Linked DNA regions of Homo sapiens: region 2 is linked to region 1. Evidence: fine-mapped expression QTL. A gene starts in region 1. The other region holds a variant in brackets. All regions are shown on one strand. Distances are from middle to middle. Region 1 holds the start of GARS1-DT (GARS1 divergent transcript). Region 2 holds the start of GARS1 (glycyl-tRNA synthetase 1).

Region 1 (2,917 bases):
CTCTACTGTTACCTGAAGGCCAAGGAGTGAACCTGGGATAGCTCTCCTGCCCAGAAGGCGGAAGGACTCTTTTGTATCTTTTTGAGTTATAGTCCCTGATCCCTACCTGTGATGCAATTGGCAGCAGAAGCTCGTCCAGGGTGAACTCACACACATTTCAGGCGACTTAAACCCTCTTTCTTAAGCTAAATTCTCCCATAAAGTTGGCCTGTAAGGACAAAAGATAATATCTCTTAGATATTTTGACCTCCCTTCTCCTACTGAATCTATTGACTGGCTGAGGACCTTTGGGACCCACAAGCTTTAGAACACATTCTACATCTTGGACCTCCACTTAAGGGAGCTTGGTGGTCATTGCTTTGGCATCAGTTTGCTTGCCCTGAACCCCGTAGAAATTCTATATATCTTTTATATACCCAATATAAACCCAATCTTTTATATAACCTCTGCACCATTTCTTCATGGGGAATATCCCACTAGCCTTGGTACCGTTAACTCTGCAGTGTTCGGGAACCTCCTTAGTCTTGCAAGGAATGCAGGAAGATATGGCCTATCTAAATTGGTAGGAAGCTAGAAGCTGAGACCTTCATCCAGGGACAAGAGAAAAGCTCATATTAGGCCATTGCCTCTGGAGGGAAAACATACAAAGCAACACTGGTGCCCACCTAAGGTCAGAGATGTCTGACACTTTTAGACTGGACCTCAAAGGGGGATGCCTAGGGGATCCAACTCCAGACCTCAGCCTCTCCAAAGGGGATGCCCTAGGCAAAGGTTCTCAGGTCTAGTACTAAGGCCTCCTTAGAATTGTCTCTCTCTTGCAGACCACTACAGGAAACACTCCATTTATTCCACCTGACTTCCCACTTGGCTGCATCCTCAACCATTGAAATGAATTTGACCCTGATAATCTAAGGAGGAAACATTTGATATTCTTTTGCAATAATACTTGGCCCCAGTATTGTTTGGAATCTGGAGTTTGCTGTTGAATGGGAAAGCAGGATGACGTTGCATGTATCCAGGCTTTGGTGCTGCTGTCCTAAGAAGGGTCAGGCCTAGTCAGCATATGGTGCTCTCCTTTGGTGCTATTTGGCTCCAGTGTCTTTGGAGTCTGAGGAGGTTTGGCCTTTAAAAATCAAACTGCCACCGGAACTGCTTTAAAAATGTTTGGTTCACAGCCTTCACTGGATTACCTATTGGAGCAAACAAAGTGTAACCATGTAAAACCTGTGAGCTTGTATTGATATCTCATGGCTAGAGTTCCAAGGTAAAAGCTATTGGATCTTCGTTTGTGTGTGTGTATACATGTCTAGATGTGTTTATTTGTATGTACACTTATTGTTATATGTTGTGTCAACCAAATCAGCTTATAAATAAAAAAGCACTCATAAATTAAATAAATAAGTCCAAGCAATTTTCAAGTTCATGTGACTTAAGTAAATCTTCATTAAATAGCTGGCTTTAAAATTATTGGTAAAATGAAAATAGAAATATCTTCAGAATTGTCAGCATACATTTTTGTCTGGGTTTTATATTTGTCTTTGCTAGAAATGTTGAAGTGTCAGCATTTGGCATAGAAGATTATAAAGCTATTAACCCAGCCAAAACAAAATGGCCTTAGTTTATGTGGCTTCTTTGACAAATGAGACTAATTTAATATTGTTAGCTAAATCTTCTGGGTTATTGGCAAAAACACCTATGTATTTAACTGTGAGGTTCTTATTTAGGTGAACACATAATGTTCATTGGCTATTAAAAATGGTTAACAAATAAATAACTAACTTTAAATGATGGTGTCTAATATCTCAGTTTTCAGAAGTAATCTAGATAAACTGTTAAAAATGAAAGACTTAAGTACATGTAAATGGGATGAATGATTAGGTAAATTTTGTGTAATTTAAAATCTTAAAAGTATTTTTGATGCCCATTGGATATCTCAGTCATTTCCAATTAAGAAAGGGTTATGATAGGGAGGAATATGTTTCCAAAAATTGTGGAATTATTCTCATCTATAAAATGCTAATATCTGATAGTTTAGGATTTTTTGCTTCCTAAGGTTTCACTAAAATTTAAGGTTACTAAGATGATATGGTTTGGCTTTGCATCCCCACCCAAATCTCTTCTTATAACTCCCATAATTACCGTGTGTTGTGGGGAGGGATCCAGTGGGTGAGAGATGATTGAATTATGCTGTTCTCATGATAGCGAATGGGTCTCATGAGATCTGATGGTTTTGAAAATGGGAGTTGCCCTGCACAAGCTCTCCTTTTGCCTGCTGCCATCCACATAAGATGTGATTTGCTCTTCCTTGCCTTCCACCATGATTGTGAGGCCTTCCCAGCATGTGGAAATGTAAGTCCAATAAACCTCTTTCTTTTGTAAATTGCCCAGTCTTAAGTATGTCTTTATCAGCAGCATGAAAACAGACTAATACATAAGGATATGAATTATAGTTAATATATAATTCTGTATACAAAATATGCCAAAAAATGTGTTATTGGTGAGAAAGAATTATTTTGTGTAGTTTGGAGGTTATCTGAAAGTTAATTCAAATTATGGACTTTAAAAAAAAGAGTTATTTATGAAACAAGGTAGTAAGGAACCAGTAAGTAGGGGAGAGATGTGAAGAAAGTTATATATATGAAGATATGTTTTTGTGAGGGAAGATTGTAGAGATGGTGGCTTTGTAGGAGAAAAGATCTTGTACGATAAATTCTTGTCCTAACGTAAAATGACTGGTTGTTTAAAAAGAAAGATGTTTAGGAAAACTCAGAAAGTCCAAGCATTTTGTAGATGGTCTGGGTAAGTTATGAAAAGAATTCATGTAAGAAAAGGATAATGTACCTTTGGTAAAAAGCATGGGAATGTGGATTTCTTGCCTAAGTTTAGAGGGTGAAAGGATGGTTTTAAGTGAGATAGG
Region 2 (2,917 bases), 18 kb before region 1:
TAAATTATTTTTCAGCTGACATAGGACTCAGTAATTCACACAATTAACTAACTGATATATGTGTGTTCTTGGAAAATTAGAAAAAAATATCCAAACTAACTTAAATCAACTAACTCGTATATTCGGAAAATATCTTAAAGTACAAAACAATAATCAAGACAACATAAACAATACACAAGACAGTAGTTAGTAGCATCGGAAAGCTGCCGCGATCAAAGTTTACTTTAGTTAACTAGATCCTGTCTTAACTACCGATGGATGATTTTCACTGCAGTTCCAGGCTAACGTGGCAGAGGGAGGGGTTTGGGTGTGGTGGTTTTTTTTTTTCTCCAAATTAGTTGTATGCTTCCTTCTAAAGGGAAGGATATTTTTTAAAATGGCAAGTTAAGAAAAGACAAAGGAACCACACCTAATTTTATTTGTGGAGTGGAAGGTGGGTGGAGGGAGACAGAATATGCAATCGGTGTTCTGACACCAATCATGAAGAAAAAAGTTAAGCCCGTGGTGATATTTCAAAATGAAAGGCTATTTATTAAAATCGGTCAGGCTCAAACCAGCGAAGAGGACAGATGGCAAAGTGGCTGAATTTGCGGCAGCTATGCCCCAATGAATTATTTCCGAGATAGGGTTCCACCCTCTGTAGCTAAGGCAAATTATTGCATCAGGCGCCCATGCAGGAGAAACCCGTTTGGTGTTTACTACTAAGTCATGATCTCCGGGGTCCTACTGCAAGCTCTGGCTCTCCCTAATTGCATATGGGAATCATCTGAAATAATCTTTTCCTTGATATCTCTAAATTCTAAACTCTATGGCAGTGCCCTAGGAAAAGGAGGTCTATATTAAATCACCAAGTCCTTCAGCCCATGAAACCTTCCCTCACCTTCGGGAAAATCAAATGTCAAAATATTCCATACTAAGGATGGCTGACTTCACTCCGCAACACTTAGTTTCCCAGGTTTACGATCTGAGGGCTCACTGGTTCCAAACGGCCTTTTCAGAAGCCAGAAAAGATGACAAGAGCAAAGGATGATGAGTTCACAGCATTAATAGAAAAGTTCGACACCTCCCCACATCCACATTTCAATTCTATTTTCTCAGCCAATCATTCCGCTAAACTAAGCACTGAATGAAGGAAGATGTTAAGGGGGAAACACTATCAAAGCATCCTAAAGATTAAAGGGCCTGGCCGTAAGACGAAAGAACCGGCAGTTTTTCGGCTCATCATTGACCACTGAAAGAATTAGGAGGCTTTCCACCCAGGGTGCACAAAGAGTACAGCAGAGCCTGGAAAACTGAAGTTAAGGTTATTCAGTTAGGAGGCGAGGACAACCAAAGGGTCACAGATCCCAGCCCCACTGGAAATAGAGGAGACGCGGGCTGTGACAGAATGGGGAAGGGAGAACGGAGCCGGAGAGGGACGCAGGAAGTCGGAGGGGTTCCAGGGAGTCATCCAAAAAGAGAGGAGGACGGAGGTCCGCGGGAGAGGAGGTGGCTGACGCACGGGGGACTTGGGACCAAAGTGGGGGAGGCGAAGAAGACGCCAGAGGATGAAGGGAAAGAAAGGGGTAACCGAAGAGGAGGACAGTTCCCCGGGGAGGAGGGAAGGATGACCAGAAGAAGGCCCTGGGAGGAGAGCCGGAGGCTTAGCGGAGAGCGCAAAACACCGGTACCTGCTGGCGCACTGCTAGCCTCAGAGGTGCCAGCACCTCCTCAGCCCCCGCGCCGTCCATGCTGCTCCGGGAGGCGGCGGCGGGCAAGGAGATCGGGG[G/C]GCAGGAGGCCGCGCTGAGGGACCGGCGGAGCAGGAGCGAGGGTCGGGCTAAGAGCCGGGGCGGCAGCAGCAGCAGCAGAGCGGCGCGAGCACCTCTAAGCAGCACTGGACGCGGAGAGGGCATGAGCCTGCGGCCCTGGGCTGTCCAGAGAGGGTGGCGACGGAAGCGGCGCGCGCCGCCCGGCTCGGAGCATGATGAAATCGCCGCGTAAACGACGCGGCGCGCGTGCTGCCGCACATTCACCACCGCGTGACGCGGCGCCGGGTCGCCGCCGCAGATTCGACACAAAACCCGGAAGGACCCCGCCGAAGGTTTTCTCCGGTTCGGGAGAGAGGTAGGTAGGGTTGCGAGCGAACAGATTTGCACAGAAGTGCGTCAAGCCACCCCAGCAGGGTGGATGTTCAGGGACACAGCTCTGAGCGAGACCTGCAGGCCGAGACACACGAGAACCTTCAAAGCATAGGTTTTTATACGAGTGACACCCCGGCCGACCTACTTGAACGGACACTTCTGTTTCTGTTCTTTCGCGCCCTGCGCCTTAAAAGGGTCGCAAAACATCAAATCAGATAGGGATCTTAGACTTCTGTTGCTCAAGTGCAGATGTTCCCCAGATAAGGAAATAGGCCCAGAGAGGTTAATGATTTGCCCAGAGTCACACATTCTTGGTCCGCCGATGTCAAGACAAAAGCTGGCGAACGGGGGAGGAGGAGTGAGGGGATAGAGTCACCCCAGGCTTTCTGGAGAAGGTAAATTCCAATCTGCCCTTGCGGGGCGAGCAGGATTTGAACCGGCAGAGATGAGGAAAGGCAAGAGGTGCCTGATAAGTCTTTCTGCTTGGCATAGCCTCAGTCTATCTGCCTCCTGTGGTTAGGCCCCAGCTGACCAACCACCCAGAGATGGCTTCCCCCCGCCCCACACACCCAGTTCCTCCTGCCCAAAGGGTGGAGGGCCTAGAAAAGCTGGGTTCCCCCTCCAGGAAAGGAAGAGAAAAATGATGTGTTGGTTATAAAAACAGCATTGCGCACACCTGCAAAAATGGCTAAAATGAAAATGATGGAAAATGCCAAGTGACCCTCTGAGACTCCCCTACACTGCTCAGGGGAGTGTTAACTGGTGCAGCCAGCCACTTGGGAGCTCTTCGGCAGTAT

What was found. PIP is the estimated chance that this variant, and not a neighbour inherited with it, causes the effect.
Region 2: its variant is fine-mapped to the expression of GARS1-DT in kidney cortex (GTEx, PIP 0.99).

What each region holds. Positions count from the first base shown.
Region 1 is chr7:30,575,996-30,578,912 of GRCh38, reverse strand. GARS1-DT (GARS1 divergent transcript) reads left to right here and starts at 1,134. Exons shown (of 7, transcript NR_038889.1): 1 at 1,134-1,264; 2 at 2,203-2,349.
Region 2 is chr7:30,593,897-30,596,813 of GRCh38, reverse strand. GARS1 (glycyl-tRNA synthetase 1) reads right to left here and starts at 1,936. Exons shown (of 17, transcript NM_002047.4): 1 at 1,671-1,936. The coding sequence starts at 1,892. RefSeq lists a silencer at 645-744 and enhancers at 640-1,253, 1,254-1,867, 1,888-2,237, 1,868-2,481. The variant G/C (reference allele first, on the strand shown) is at 1,769.